Homo sapiens: one gene and its partners. The protein of the gene in region 1 purifies or fractionates together with the protein of each later gene. This does not show direct contact. Each region holds a gene or a part of one and is shown in the gene's direction. Other genes may lie near its edges.

Region 1 (3,500 bases):
GGGAAAGCCAGGGTTGGACCCCACCATCCCTCTGGCTGCCCTTCTCAGAGGGAGCTGCGCCTGCCACCCGGGAGGGCCCATGTGTCTATCATGTGGGTTCTCCCATGAGTTTGGAGTTTGGGCTTGGGACAGGGGAGACTGTGGGGTCAGCTGGCCAGGCGGCGGGGGTCATCCCCAGCGGGAATGAATGGTACGCTGGTGTTGACTGTAGTCAAGTGCCCTGTGGCACCTGGACACACCGTCTGTTCAGAAGAGGCATGAAACCTTTATTGTGGCTGTCTCTGCTCACTCATTGTTTCTGATTGGGCTATTTGAGGAACAGCCTGCCACGTTGGCCTCATTAGCATCGTGAGGCTCTTAATGGAACTGGATCCACACACGTGTACAGACACTCACAAACTCACTCAGGTACGCATGCCCGCCTGCACTAACCCCCAGAGGTCTGTGTATAGGGTTGTGCGCTCCTAAACCCCACCCCAGGTCAGACCCACCCTGACACACATGGCTTGTGACACCCATACCTTCACCCCAGTCACACTCTCACTGTCCCTTATTGGTGACTTTTCATTCACCTTGGGTGACCCACTGGCTCCAGTGGCCAAGGGCTGGCTTACTAGAGGGTGGCTGGGGGCCAGATGCCGGCAGCGGTTGGTTAAGCTTTTGGGACAGGAGGCAGCAGCATTGCCCTGGTGAGGCCACCCCCAGTGGGGCTCGACCCCCAAGCACTTTGGCTCCCCCCACGTCTCCCAGGAGAGTGTCTCTGGGTCCTGAGGCTGTCTGTCCTTGTGTAGTTCTCGTGAGCCTCTTTCTGCTTCGGCCTGTGAGTGTGTCTGGCCCTGCGCCTCCTGTGTGCTCCCCATCTGTGTCCTTTCCCCTCTCCTGACCCTGTCCTTTGTTATCTCTGTCTCTCCTCTCCACCCGTCTAGCTCTTTTTTCTGTGAGTCTTTCTATGTCTTTTCTTCTTCCTTTTTCTCTGCCTCCTCTGTCTACCCCTTCTCTCTCTGTCCCTCTCTCTCACACTCCCACTCTCAGTGTCTGACTGCGTGGCTATCTCTCTGGGTGGGTCTTTCTGTATCTTCACCTCTCTCTATATCTGCCTGTCAGTCTGGACATGTATCCCTCTGACTCTCTGCCTTAGTCTCTTGAGGAGTCTCGGCAAAAGGAGAGCCAAGAGTCCTGAAAGAAGGTGACAGCCAGGCACGGTGGCTCACGCCTGTAATACTAGCACTTTGGGAGGCTGAGGCGGGTGGATCACCTGAGGTCAGAAGTTCGAAACCAGCCTGGCCAACATGGTGAACCCCCGTCTCTACTAAAAATACAAAATTAGCTGGGCGCGGTGGCGCATGCCTGTAATCTCAGCTACTTGGGAGATTGAGGTGGGAGAATCGTTTGTACCTGGGAGGCAGAGGTTGCAGAAAGCCAAGATTGCGCCATTGCACTCCAGCCTGGGCAACAAATGTGAAACTCCATCTCAAAAAAAAAAAAAAAAGGTGATAATGCCTCCCAGGGGGCCACGATCACTTCTGGGCTCCTCCACTGCCAGGCAAGGCGGCAGGAAAGGGAATATCACGTCCTAGGGAGAGTGGATGGGCCGAGTGCAGTGGCTCACACCTGTAATCCCAGCACTTTGGGAGGCCAAGGTGGGTGGATTGCTTGAGGTCAAGGAGTTAGAGATCAGCCTGGCCAACATGGTGAAACCTCGTCTCTGCTAAAAAAGTACAAAAAATTAGCCGGGCTTGGTGATGGGTACCTTTAATCCCAGGTACTCGGGAGACTGAAGCAGGAGATTTGCCTGAGCCTGGGAGGTACAGGTTGCAGTGAGCCAACATCGTGCCACTGCACTCCAGCCTGGACGACAGAGTGAGACCCTCTCTCAAAAAAAAAAAAATAAATAAAATAAAATAAAAAGTAAAAAAAATAAAGAGCTGATGGCTCATCTCCTCTAACTCCTCTGTTGAGAACTCCGGGGTTTCGGCTCTGAACTCTGAAACTTTCTTCAGTGATGAGGCCCAGGGTCATAGGCCTGGGAGCAGGGCTGGGGGTCCAGAGTCATCACTCTGGGAGATAAGGGATAGAGCCCCTTGTCTGTCTGGTTGACCTGATTGACCTTGAACTGAGGGAAGGGTGTTGGGACTTGGAGTCTCCCTCAGAAGAGGCGTTGACCAGAGTGGGGCTGAATTGACACTTTTCTTTCTCCTGGAAGCAGTCAAGCTCAGCCCACCCACCCCGGGCCCCAGCTTCCTGCTCCAAACCACAGCTGTGCTCCCCACCCTGTTCCAAATATTTCTGCCAACTGCCCCAGGCCGAGGGGCCTGTTTAAACAGCCTCCCTGCCCTCTCCTGGCCTCCCCACCTCTGTGGCCTCCCCATCGCTCCCACGGCTTCTTGCACAGGAGCGGCTGTGTTGGCTGTTTGTTTATTGGATTAAGATTTCCTTGGGTGGGGCAAGGACTGACTCCACAGGTCCTTCTTCTCACTTTAGATGCCCAGGCTAGAGGCCAGACCCAGCTTTGGCCTTGCCCCCTGCCCTGTCCAGCCTTCCCCGGACCCCCGCCCCCCGCTCCCAGATGTCTCTCCTACATCCCAAGCCCCAGACTTCTCTACCCTTCTGATCTCAGCTCTGTTCAGTCCCGCATCTGATGCCAGCTGACCCCCTCCCCAGCCCCAAAGTTGAGTGCTCTGGCCCTGGAGGGCAGGATGGGGATGGGACACTCCCCCACTCCCTGCTGAGAGGAGAGGAAATGCCAGGAAAAGGCACTGGGAACAGGAACCCTTGGGTTTTCTAGGGGTTCCTAAAGAGGGACACATGGGGTGTGGTCTTTGGAATGTGGGAGAAGCCTGCCCACTCTCCCTGTTGGCAGAGGCTTGAGCCAGTCCTCCAGTGAGACTTTAGCAGAGGAATAATTCTCTGATGGGCTCGGGGCCCCTGTAAGAATCCATCTCCAGAACAATCTCCCTAGGACCCCAAAGGGCCTCCTATCCCCTGATTTTGTACAGAACTTTGCAGTATACAGAACTGCCTCATCCCATCCTATGAGCACCTGCAGAGATCAAAATTCTTTTTTTTTTTTGACACGAATCTCGCTTGCTCTGTTGCCCAAGCTGGAGTGCAGTGGTGCAGTCTCAGCTCACTGCAACCTCCCCCTCCCAGGTTCACAAGATTCTCGTGCCTCAGCCTCCTGAGTAGCTGGGATTACAGGCACATGCCACCATGCCCAGCTAATTTTTTGTATTTTTAGTAGAGACAGGGTTTTGCCATGTTGTCCTGGCTGGTCTCGAACTCCTGAGCTCAGGTGATCCACCCACCTCGGCCTCCCAAAGTGCTAAGATTACCGTCATGAACCTCTGGGCCTGGCTAAGATCAAAGTTCTTTTTGTAGATGATGAAAGCTCAGAGAGCAAAGGAACTTTCGCAGAATCAATCTTCTAGCAGAACCTGGACTGGAACCTGGGTCTCCTCACCCCTCACAGCCAGGGCTCCTTGCCAGACCATGCTGGAGCT
Region 2 (4,223 bases), on another chromosome or scaffold:
CAATTATTAGCCACTAGAGACTCTTAACTTCCTTGAGTTAGGATCCTTACCAATTTTTGAGCACCTACCATACGCCTGCTATATGTAGCAATGGGGATGAAGAAAACAATCAAAACAAAACAAAAGAAAAAGGTATTTCCCTACCACCGTAGAGCTCTATATAGAAAGAATACAAAAAAAAAAAAGCAGCCAGAAAATAAGAATTAAAATAATTTGTATTGCACATAGTTGGTGTTTAATTCATAAATACCACTTACAAAGATTTATGACTCAAAGACAAGACAAAGTACTTCCATGGGTTGACACAGGGCTGTAAGCAATTCTTTGAACATGAAAGAAGCTGGACACATAGGTCATATTCCACTCCAGTACTCTTCCCAGTCCATCAAACTGCTCTCTTCCAGGCCAATAAGTACTTTCTGAAGTCTTCCTCGAGTCCAACTTCTAGATTTTTATTCCTTCCTCTCCCTGCATCATTCCAGCCATAGCTCCCCTTTGTGTTCATGCAATTAATTTCGTCTGAGTCAAAGGCCTTGTGTACTCTCGCTCGTTCAGAGGGCAAAGGTGTATTCTAGATCCTACCAGAAATAAGTTTCTTAGGAATTTGGTTTTATTTTATAACAAGCTAAGAGATCATGTTTTTGTGTTTCAAACATATTACTTTTTCTAATTTCCTCAAACTTAGATATTTCCCTTTTTAGTTCTTTCTGAGATTAAGCATCTTAGAACTATTCTCTCTTTTGAATCACGGCACCACCTTTAGCTAAGAGAAAAACATCTAATTCTCAGCTACTTCCAGGCATAATTGCAACAAAATCAGACCCAATATTGAAGATTCACGTTTGCTGTGTGTTTTACCATAATAAAAGTTCGAAATTCTGTGAACTCTCTTAATAAAATGTTCCAATTTCTTACACCCTTTCATGATGACGTTCTCTTAAAGGACTAACTTGAAATTTTCAACATTCAGTTAAGCCCATTTCCTTCCTATTAACAATCAGTATTCAATATTGTGGCACGTAAGTAATACTGTAGTTCTGACAGATTAATTTATATTTGCCTTATTAAGAGTCGTTGCTTTTTTTGCTCCCCGACTTAAATTTTTTTTGTTTTTCCCCAATCTATACGAATAAAAGCGTGAACTATATGTGAAATAGCTGAAGCTCCACTTCCATTATAAATAGACAATGTCCCAAATTGCCGTTTTACAAACATTCTCAATAGCATCAGCCAGTGATAGCAATCCGAATACTCCAGAGAGAATGCGACCAAAACCCACAACAAGCCCCGTGGTCTAGCACAGCAAAGAGAAAAAAAGAGAACACGAAAATGCCCTTGCTCCCCTCCGGGGGCCCCTTTTGTGCGGTTCTTGCCAACGCAGCAGCCCTCCTGCTATATAGCCCGCCGCGCCGCAGCCCCACCCGCTCAGCGCCGCCGCCCCACCAGCTCAGCACCGCCGTGCGCCCAGCCAGCCATGGGGAAGGTGAGCCCAGCCTGCGCCCCGGGACCCCGGAGCTTCCTCCATCGCGGGGGCCAGAGACTGGGGCAGGAGCAGGCCTGTGAGACCTCGCCTTGTCCCGCCTTGCCTTGCAGATCACCCTCTACGAGGACCGGGGCTTCCAGGGCCGCCACTATGAATGCAGCAGCGACCACCCCAACCTGCAGCCCTACTTGAGCCGCTGCAACTCGGCGCGCGTGGACAGCGGCTGCTGGATGCTCTATGAGCAGCCCAACTACTCGGGCCTCCAGTACTTCCTGCGCCGCGGCGACTATGCCGACCACCAGCAGTGGATGGGCCTCAGCGACTCGGTCCGCTCCTGCCGCCTCATCCCCCACGTGAGTACATCCTCAAGTCAGGACCCAGGCCCTCAGGACACTCACTGGATGGTTTCAAGCAAAAGTTAAACATTAGAAGTAGTGATCAGTCACAATAACTGAGAGTGGACAAAAGATGAACTATAGTGGATTAAGTCAATAGAGTTTGCTCCCCACATAAGCAAAGTATTACCCAGACACCAGTTAATCACAATTAATCCACAAATATGTATTGAGTAGGAATGTGTCTCCTGCCCTAGGGGTTGTATAAGACTTAAGTCCTATTCTGGAATCATTTAGAATGGAGTTGTAGAAAAACCACTAATACCCAATAGAAGAATAAATGCTAGAGCGTACAGCAGTTACTGAGCAAACAGGGTAATTTCTTTTGAGACTTTTTCCCGTTTTTGCTCCTCTCTTGCATATTTTGGGTTTTCCCAACCTATATAAGTAAGACTTTCCTTCAAAGGAGAGCAACACACATATTTTACACATGTGTCCCTTTTATCCCATATGTGTGTTAGAACACTAAAGTTTATGCAAAATTCGTCCTTGGACTTACTGATGTTTCTTCCTCCATTTTTCTTCATTGCATTCACAAGTTATTGACTTAGAATTAATTGTTCTTTAATATATGAAGATATTTAACATTTTATATTTTAATATATTTTAAATATTTATATTTTAATATATTTAAAACACTTATATTTTGAATAGAAGGCTTATATATTTAACATATTTTATTTATGTCATTGATTTAAATGATGCATTATCATTTAATTCAATATATTAAATGATATATTTAATATATTTTAAATACTTATATTTAAAATACATATTTTTATATTTTAAATATATTTACATTAAATATATTTAATGAATATAATGTATTTAATAATATATTTATTTAATAAATATGTATTTAATATATTTATATAACTACATAAATTATATTATATTTTAAATATATTTAACATATTTTAAATATATTTTAATATATTTTTAATATATTTCATTTACATTATATGTGTGTATATATATATTTTTGTTGTTGTTGTTTTGTTTTTGTTTTTTGAAACAGAGTCTCACTCTGACGCCCAGGCTGGAGTGCAGTGGTGCAATCTCGGCTCACTGCAACCTCCGCCTCCTGGATTCAAATGATTCTCGTCTCTCAGTCTCCTGAGTAGCTGGAGTTACAGGAGCACGCCACCACACCCAGCTAATTTTTGTATTTTTATTTTTATTTTATTTTATTTTATTATTTATTATTATTATTTTTTTTGACGAAGTCTTGCTCTGTTCCCCACGCTGGAGTGCAGTGGCATGATCTCGGCACACTGCAACCTCTGCTTCCTGGGCCCTAGCAATTTTCTTCCCAAGTAGCTGGGATTACAGGCACCCGCCACCACACCTGGCTAATTTTTGTATTTTTAGTATAGACAAGGTTTCGCCATATTCGTCAGGCTGGTCTTGAACTCCTGACCTCAAGTGATCCACCTGCCTCGGCTTCCCAGGGTGCTGGGACTACAGGCATGAGCCACTGCCCCACCCCTTATATTTCTGTATTTTAAATATATTTTATTTATATTTTAGTAAAGTTATTTTAAAATAAAATATAATTTGTAAAATAAATATAATTTTAATTTATACTTATAAAATATAATTTGAATATAATTATTAAAATAAAATATGATTAACTTTAAATAAAATATAATTTTATACATTTTATAATATATTTTAAATATAGTATATAATTAAATATGTATTAGATATCATATGTATATTAAAATTATACATTATTTAAATATATTTCTTTATAATTTAATGTTTATTTTAATATTAAAACATTTCTTCAAAATGGTATAAAATAGTAATAAGCTGTTACAGGTTTGGATTTGCATGTGGTACAGGATACTGAGCCTAGGAGGCAGCTCATCCTAAGAAATAGCTGAATATATTAAAGAGTGAGATTTCCTTCTCAATTTCTTCACCACACTTCATAATCTTGAAAAGGTACTGAATCTCTGTGCTCGGTAATGAGGAGTTTATAAATATTCAGAATTAATTAAATTTTACCATGTATTTCAAAATGGCTTGAGCGGGTCCTCACCAAGCTGGACTGCCTAACAATGCATTGGAATCATTTCACACTTGCTTTTCTTCTCTTTTTATTTCTGGGTCCGCCAGTCTGGCTCTCACAGGATCAGACTCTATGAGAGAGAGGACTACAGAGGCCAGATGATAGAGTTCACTGAGGACTGCTCCTGTCTTCAGGACCGCTTCCGCTTCAATGAAATCCACTCCCTCAACGTGCTGGAGGGCTCCTGGGTCCTCTACGAGCTGTCCAACTACCGAGGACGGCAGTACCTGCTGATGCCAGGGGACTATAGGCGCTACCAGGACTGGGG
Region 3 (3,500 bases), on another chromosome or scaffold:
TGCATTTATTCGAAGTAAGAATTTGAAAAGACTGAATAGTGGAAGGTTATCTGTGGTGATTACGCCACTGAGAGAAAAGGAGTCCTGTAGAGACCACCCCCATTTTAAGGTTTCACAGCTACCTCACGGAGGTTAAAAACTATCCTCTCATTTTAAGGATGAAATGTGCATATGTTAAAGGAAGTTTTCTTCATGATGAATCATTGCTTATATTAGGGAGGAGCACCTTCTGGAAAACCGCTCAGATGTATTAAAACTTCTCAAGCTGAGTTTTCTGACAGCAAATGCGAAATGAATGCCAAACCTTGTGCCTCTGTTCCTTGGGGTGTTGTCTGCTGTTTGGCCTGGGATGGGAAAACGTTACTGTTTGATGCAGATTGTTGTGTGTACCGAGGTCAATACAGATTAATGATTTCAACTCGTCAAAGGAAGTTTCACTGTAGGGTATTTTCATAGGATGCACAACTTGGAATTCTTGATAAACCCATAGTGAAGGAAGTCAGAGGGAGCAGATAGATGTGCACTCTCGGGAAGATTTCAACCATGTTTTCCTTGGCCAGACCCTGTGTAGCATAGCTGCAGAATACTGGTGAGAAAAATAATCTGAGTGAGAGTATTTCTTTTCTTTTCTTTTCTTTTCTTTTTTTTTTTGAGACAGAATTTCAGGCTGGGTGCGGTGGCTCACGCCTGTAATCCCAGTACTTTGGGAGGCCGAGGCGGGTGGATCACCTGAGGTTGGGAGTTGGCGACCAGCCTGATCAACATAGATAAACCCTGTCTCTATTAAAATACAAAATTAGCTGGGTGTGGTGGCGCATGCCTGTAATCCCAGCTACTCAGGAGACTGAGGCAGGAGAGTCACTTGAACCCGCGAGGCAGAGGTTGTGGTGAGCCGAGATCGAGCCATTGCACTCCAGCCTGGGCAACAAGAGCAAAACTCTGTCTCAAAAAAAAAAAAAAAAAGAGACGGAGTTTCGCTCTTGTTGCCCAGGCTGGAGTGCAGTGATGTGATCGTGGCTCACCGCAACCTCTGCCTCCCAGGTTCAAGCCATTCTCTTGCCTCAGCCTCCCGAGTAGCTGGGATTACAGGCATGCACCACCTCGCCCGGCTAACTTTTGTATTTTCAGTAGAGACGGGGTTTCACCATGTTGACCAGGCTAGTCTGGAGCTCCTGACCTCGTGATCCACCCACCTTGGCCTCCCAAAGTGCTGAGATTACAGGCATGAGACACTGCGCCCGGCCAGAACTGTGTTTTCTGAAGGTTCCGGAAACTTTGGTGCCCTTCCTGGTCAGTAGTGTTAGACCAGTAGAAGGTACAGAAGAGAACACAGGTTGTGGAGTAAAAAACGCCTGACACACTGGATTTAGCAGCCATGTGGAATATTGTGGAAGGACTTAATGAATGTGATATTTCAGCTCTGCTTGATGTTGGGCATCCAGGGGAATGGCCAGTAGTATTTTTCCCTGCCTCCTTGGCAAAGCTGAAAAGCTACATCCAAAGAGGGTAATCATAGAACCCAAGCCTATCCTCAGTGTGCTTAAGCAGGGACTCTTTTGGGAGCTCTCACATTGAAAAGTAAGTGCTGAATTTTGCTTCATGTGAGGTTTTTTTTTTTCAGACGGAGTCTCACTCTGTTGCCTAGGCTGGAGTGCATGGTGCTATCTCTGCTCACTGCAACCTCTGTCTCCTGGGTTCAAGCAACTCTCCTGCCTCAGCCTCCTGAGTAGCTGGGATTATAGGCGCCCGCCACCACACCTGGCTAATTTTTTTTGTATTTTTAGTAGAGATGGGGTTTCATCATGTTGGCCAGGCTGGTCTCAAACTCCTGACTTCAGGTGATCCACCCACCTCTGCCTCCCAAAGTGCTGGGATTACAGGCATGAGCCACCGCGCCTGGCCTCATGAGGTTTTCTTTTTTTTTTATTTTGAGACTGAGTTTCGCTCTTGTTGCCCAGGCTGGAATGTAATGGCTCCATCTCAGCTCACTGCAAGCTCCGCCTCCCGGGCTCAAGCAATTCTCCTGCCTCAGCCTCCCGAGTAGCTGGGATTACAAACGTGCGCTACCACACCCGGCTAATTTTTGTATTTTTAGTAGAGACGGGGTTTCACCACGTTGGCCAGGCTGGTCACGAACTTCTGACCTAAGGTGATCCGCCCTCCTCGGCCTCCCAAAGTGCTGGGATTATAGGCATGAGCCACCGCGCTCGGCCTCATGAGGTTTTCTAATGTCATATCTTTCTTGACAGTTGAGTTTTTTATAATGGAAATCAATTTGTACTTCATACTTTGTTGTACTTCAGGTTTTAGGGTCTGCTTCCTTTGGTAGTAGCTTTTTCTTTGAACAACAAAGCCTTGATTAGTTTAAAGCATTTTTTCTGATAGCTGCCATTCATTTTTCAGCTACAATGCTTAGTTTGTGGAAACTATATATTTTAAAGGACAACACCCACAACTTAGAAGAGTGAATGAGGCCAGGTGCGGTGGCTCATACCTGTAATCCCAGCACTTCGGGAGGAGGAGGAGGAGGCGGGTGGATCACTTGAGGTCAGGAGTTTGAGACCAGCCTGGCCAACATGATGAAAACCTGTCTCTACTAAAAATACAAAAATATTAGCCGGGCGTGGTGGCGTGCCCCTGTAGTCCCAGCTATTCGGGAGGCTGAGGCAGGAGGATTACTTGAATCTGGGAGGCAGAGGTTGCAGTGAGCTGAGATCGTGCCACTGCACTCCAGCCTGGGCGACAGAGTGAGACTCCGCCTCAAAAAAAAAAAAGAAAAAACAGAGTGAATGAGGTAAAAGTTGTCAGATTTTCAGTGACAGTGATTTTAAGTGCAAATTTGGCTTCTAGAACCACTATTGTCCTATCTCTAAGTCTTCTATGTAACCGACCATAACGTGAGTCCCATCTGACTTCAGAGTAAGAATGATAAAGGAGAAAAGTCAATCTTTCGTCAAAATAAACATCACCATACAAGGCAGACCCGTTGTCTGCCGCCTCCATGTTAGCTTTATTATTGGTGATACTGAAGGATGTTTTGTTAGTGAGTATGCCACGTGCTTTCTTTTTTTATCTATTATTTTATTTTATTTTATTTTTTTGAGACGGAGTCTCGCTCTGTCGCTCAGGCTGGAGTGCAGTGGTGCGATCTTGACTCACTGCAAGCTCTGCCTCTCTGGTTCATGCCATTCTCCTTCCTCAGCCTCCTGAGTAGCTGGGACTACAGGCGCCCAGCTAATTTTTTTTGTATTTTTAGTAGAGAAGGGGTTTCACTGTGTTGGCCAGGATGGTCTTGATCTCCTGACCTCGTGATCCGCCCGCCTCGGCCTCCCAAAGTGCTGGGATTACAGGAGTGAGCCACCGTGCCCAGCCTAGCATGCTACATGCTTTCTATGAGACTGCATCCCAAGAGTCAGACATGCAAGCCTCTCTATTTTTTTCCCCCTCAAGATGGATTAAAGGTTTAAAGCCTTCCTTTCTTTTTTTTTTTTTTTTTTTAA
Region 4 (3,500 bases), on another chromosome or scaffold:
TTTAAACAACAAAATCCTTTAAAATTCTATCAACTGGGTTTTGCTAAGTGAATAGACTAATTGCTTTAACTAGCAACGGCCTAGAAGTTTAAAAAGAGAGGAAGCTAGAAAGTAAAAGATAACATTTTAATAATCCTGGTTGTTTCTATGCCCTTGATGTTTAGTTCCTCGTGAAAACATGTTTTAGAAAGAATTTTTAAGCCAATCTGGCCATACACGGATTCCTGGATTTGCTTAGCTTGGTCCATGAGAAATATTGTTAAAGAGTGCTTGACACTGATGCTTGTTAAGTGGATCTTGTGAACATCATAAGGAGATTTTTTTTTTTTTTTTTTGAGACGGAGTCTCACTCTGTAGCCCAGGCTGGAGTACAGTGGCACGATCTCAGCTCACTGCAACCTCCGACTCCCGGGTTCAAGCGATTCTCCTGCCTCAGCCTCCTGAGTAGCTGGGATTACAGGCATGTGCCACCACGCCTTGCTAATTTTTGTATTTTTAGTAGAGACGGGGTTTCACCATGTTGGCCAGGATGTTCTTGATCTCCTGACCTCCTGATCCGTCCGCCTCGGCCTTCCAAAGTACGGGGATTACAGGTGTGAGCCACCGCGCCCCAGTCCATAAAGAGATTTTAAAATGTGGGTCCTAGCTACAGGTAAGCTTGGGTTTGTGTAGTGGTGTAAGTTCCCTTGCTACGCCCTTTGCTCTTCTGGGCTGCTAGAGGGTGTAGTAATACTCCCACCTCCAAAAGTTGGACTTCGTAAGCCTTTATAACCCAGCGTGAATTGGAAAGAAGATGCAGGAGGTTTATCTCTATAGATGAGCTCTCACAAGATTAGTCTAATACCTGGGTTGCGCATTGCAGGGCAAACAGCTCCAGGCCCTCAGAGCTGCTCAAGGCTTTTCAACCCAGGGGATGATAATCAATGTTATGTCAATGAATCAGCCAAACAGACAGAAAGATCACATTATGTTTTCTCTGTTTGAAAAGGTAAATACCTCATACATTTTGAAAATTTCAATGAAAATCGTTTGAGTTAAGAAGTTCTAATATTTAAAGAGTTAAGCTTTCATTTTCTGGAAGCCTTTGTGAATAGGGCTGGGTAGATGCAGCGGGCCCTGCATGTTCACTGCCCTTTGTAGCTTTTACAAATGACCTGTGTCATGTCATCCTCACTGTCTTCTCCCCACCAGGATGACAACTGGGGAGAGACCACCACGGCCATCACAGGCACCTCGGAGCACAGCATATCCCAAGAGGACATTGCCAGGATCAGCAAGGACATGGAGGACAGCGTGGGGCTGGATTGCAAACGCTACCTGGGCCTCACCGTCGCCTCTTTTCTTGGACTTCTAGTTTTCCTCACCCCTATTGCCTTCATCCTTTTACCTCCGATCCTGTGGAGGGATGAGCTGGAGCCTTGTGGCACAATTTGTGAGGGGCTCTTTATCTCCATGGCATTCAAACTCCTCATTCTGCTCATAGGGACCTGGGCACTTTTTTTCCGCAAGCGGAGAGCTGACATGCCACGGGTGTTTGTGTTTCGTGCCCTTTTGTTGGTCCTCATCTTTCTCTTTGTGGTTTCCTATTGGCTTTTTTACGGGGTCCGCATTTTGGACTCTCGGGACCGGAATTACCAGGGCATTGTGCAATATGCAGTCTCCCTTGTGGATGCCCTCCTCTTCATCCATTACCTGGCCATCGTCCTGCTGGAGCTCAGGCAGCTGCAGCCCATGTTCACGCTGCAGGTGGTCCGCTCCACCGATGGCGAGTCCCGCTTCTACAGCCTGGGACACCTGAGGTAAGAGGCAACATCCAGGAGGCAGAAAGGATGGCTGATGTCTTGCTGGGAGACAGCTGCTCTGTAGCACGTGAGGGGTGGTGACAGATGCCAAGAGCTAGGACCAGAGTCTGACTCTTTTCTGGTTTGGGGAGGAGATGCGAGGGTGGGGAGGGTGTCCATGTTCATTGAGTTTCTGGACTTCTAGATGGTGCGGGGCAGTTGCTGGCTCTCACCCAGGTTGAGATTTTGCTGGGCTTGTTCTCAAAGTTATTGGCAGCTCCCAAAAATGATGGAGAAAGGAGATGCATAGTGATGGCTGCCTTCTTTGACTCTGAAATTGGCCAATGGACAACAGATAAAGTGACCAGCAGCTCCATTTTGTCCCAAATGTGACATCTGGTTTACCATGTTGTCCCAGTGGAATAATGAATTGTTCCTTTTTTCCCACTCTCAGAGGCCTGGTTTGGGCAGTAAATTATATGGTCATCCGAGGGACCCTCCAATAAAGAATCAAGTGCAGGTTAGAGACTCCAAATGTGTAATCCTTGAGTGTTGTGAAAATGTATGCGTGAGAAAAAGTTAGAAGTCAGTTGGGTTGTCATACTTACATCTCTGCATAAAATCTCATTATTTTGTGGTTAAATAAGAGTGATTACCATCATTTTATTTGCTTCAAGGTAAGCACTTTATATATAGATTGTGTATTTAGTCTTCATAGAACCCCGTGACCTAGGTATTATTAATCCCTGTGTCACAGATGAAGAAACTAGGGCTTAGGGGATTTAAGTAATTTGCACAAAAACATATGGCTAGCCTCATTTAGGATTCACTCAGATGTCATGAGGCCAGGGCTGAGTGAATGCCCCCATAATGGCATCTCTCACTTTGTGGTTAGTGGCCTATTTTTCCATCTGTTTTCTTCCACAGACTATGAACTCCCTGAGGCCAGGGGCCACCCTTATACCTCATTACATCCTCAGTGCCTGGCATGGAGCATGGCTTGCACTGAGATGTTCTCTGGGTGAATGCAGAGCCTGGGACATTTGACTTCAAAGCCTTTACCCTCTCCCAGGCTCTCTGCCTCCTTAGGCAGTATATGCTGATGTGTGTAGCCTGCTTGGGGCAGGGTAGGCACTTAGTTCATTGCAGCTATTACTGCTGTGATCATGTAGCTGGCAGAGCAGCCAGAATCAGCAAGGGCACACCTTAGTGGGTATCAGAACAATCGGCTTTGTCATAGATTTGGCTGGGCTCCAGGAAGGTGGCTCAGCCTGTATTTGGAGTCAGGCCATGCTGCCAAACCATCTTCATGTTGGTGTGTACCCTCCTCCATTCCTCTGGCTTGGCTTGTGCTACGAGAACGGGATGATCTAGCGTTCAAGGTTGCTGCCACCCTAACTGATCCTTGGTGGAAACTGGTGTCCAAGTCACATGTCTGTGCACCAAAAATCTGGGGTTTAGAGTCCTTCACAGATGCCTGTAGGGCTCTGAAGACAAGTAGGTCACCGCTTTGCTGCATATTCATCTCAGAAGGCTTTCTTTTCCCATGTTTTGCATCAGGGAATGACCAGCAGTTTTGTGTTAAACATCTGCTGTGTGCAGAGCCCTGGACACACCAGGCTGGCTGCCTTCAGAGCTCTATCTCAGCACCTGTGGCACTCACAGTCACTTGGAAAGAGACCAGTGCACCGCTGTCTGGTGGACAGGTGCAGAAACAGG

What was found. The genes of interacting proteins can lie anywhere in the genome.
Region 2: the proteins of ZNF385C (region 1) and CRYGD purify together in Homo sapiens (affinity purification with mass spectrometry, with the first as the bait; one large-scale study listed by BioGRID). This does not show direct contact.
Region 3: the proteins of ZNF385C (region 1) and LUC7L purify together in Homo sapiens (affinity purification with mass spectrometry, with the first as the bait; one large-scale study listed by BioGRID). This does not show direct contact.
Region 4: the proteins of ZNF385C (region 1) and VANGL1 purify together in Homo sapiens (affinity purification with mass spectrometry, with the first as the bait; one large-scale study listed by BioGRID). This does not show direct contact.

What each region holds. Positions count from the first base shown.
Region 1 is NC_000017.11:42,091,974-42,095,473, reverse strand, and holds part of ZNF385C (zinc finger protein 385C), read left to right. Parts: intron 1-3,500.
Region 2 is NC_000002.12:208,121,725-208,125,947, reverse strand, and holds the start of CRYGD (gamma-crystallin D), read left to right. Parts: upstream 1-1,423; 5' UTR 1,424-1,474; coding exon 1,475-1,483; intron 1,484-1,593; coding exon 1,594-1,836; intron 1,837-4,002; coding exon 4,003-4,223. UniProt on the Homo sapiens protein: Crystallins are the dominant structural components of the vertebrate eye lens.
Region 3 is NC_000016.10:222,950-226,449, reverse strand, and holds part of LUC7L (putative RNA-binding protein Luc7-like 1), read left to right. Parts: intron 1-3,500. UniProt on the Homo sapiens protein: May bind to RNA via its Arg/Ser-rich domain.
Region 4 is NC_000001.11:115,662,470-115,665,969, forward strand, and holds part of VANGL1 (vang-like protein 1), read left to right. Parts: intron 1-1,191; coding exon 1,192-1,799; intron 1,800-3,500.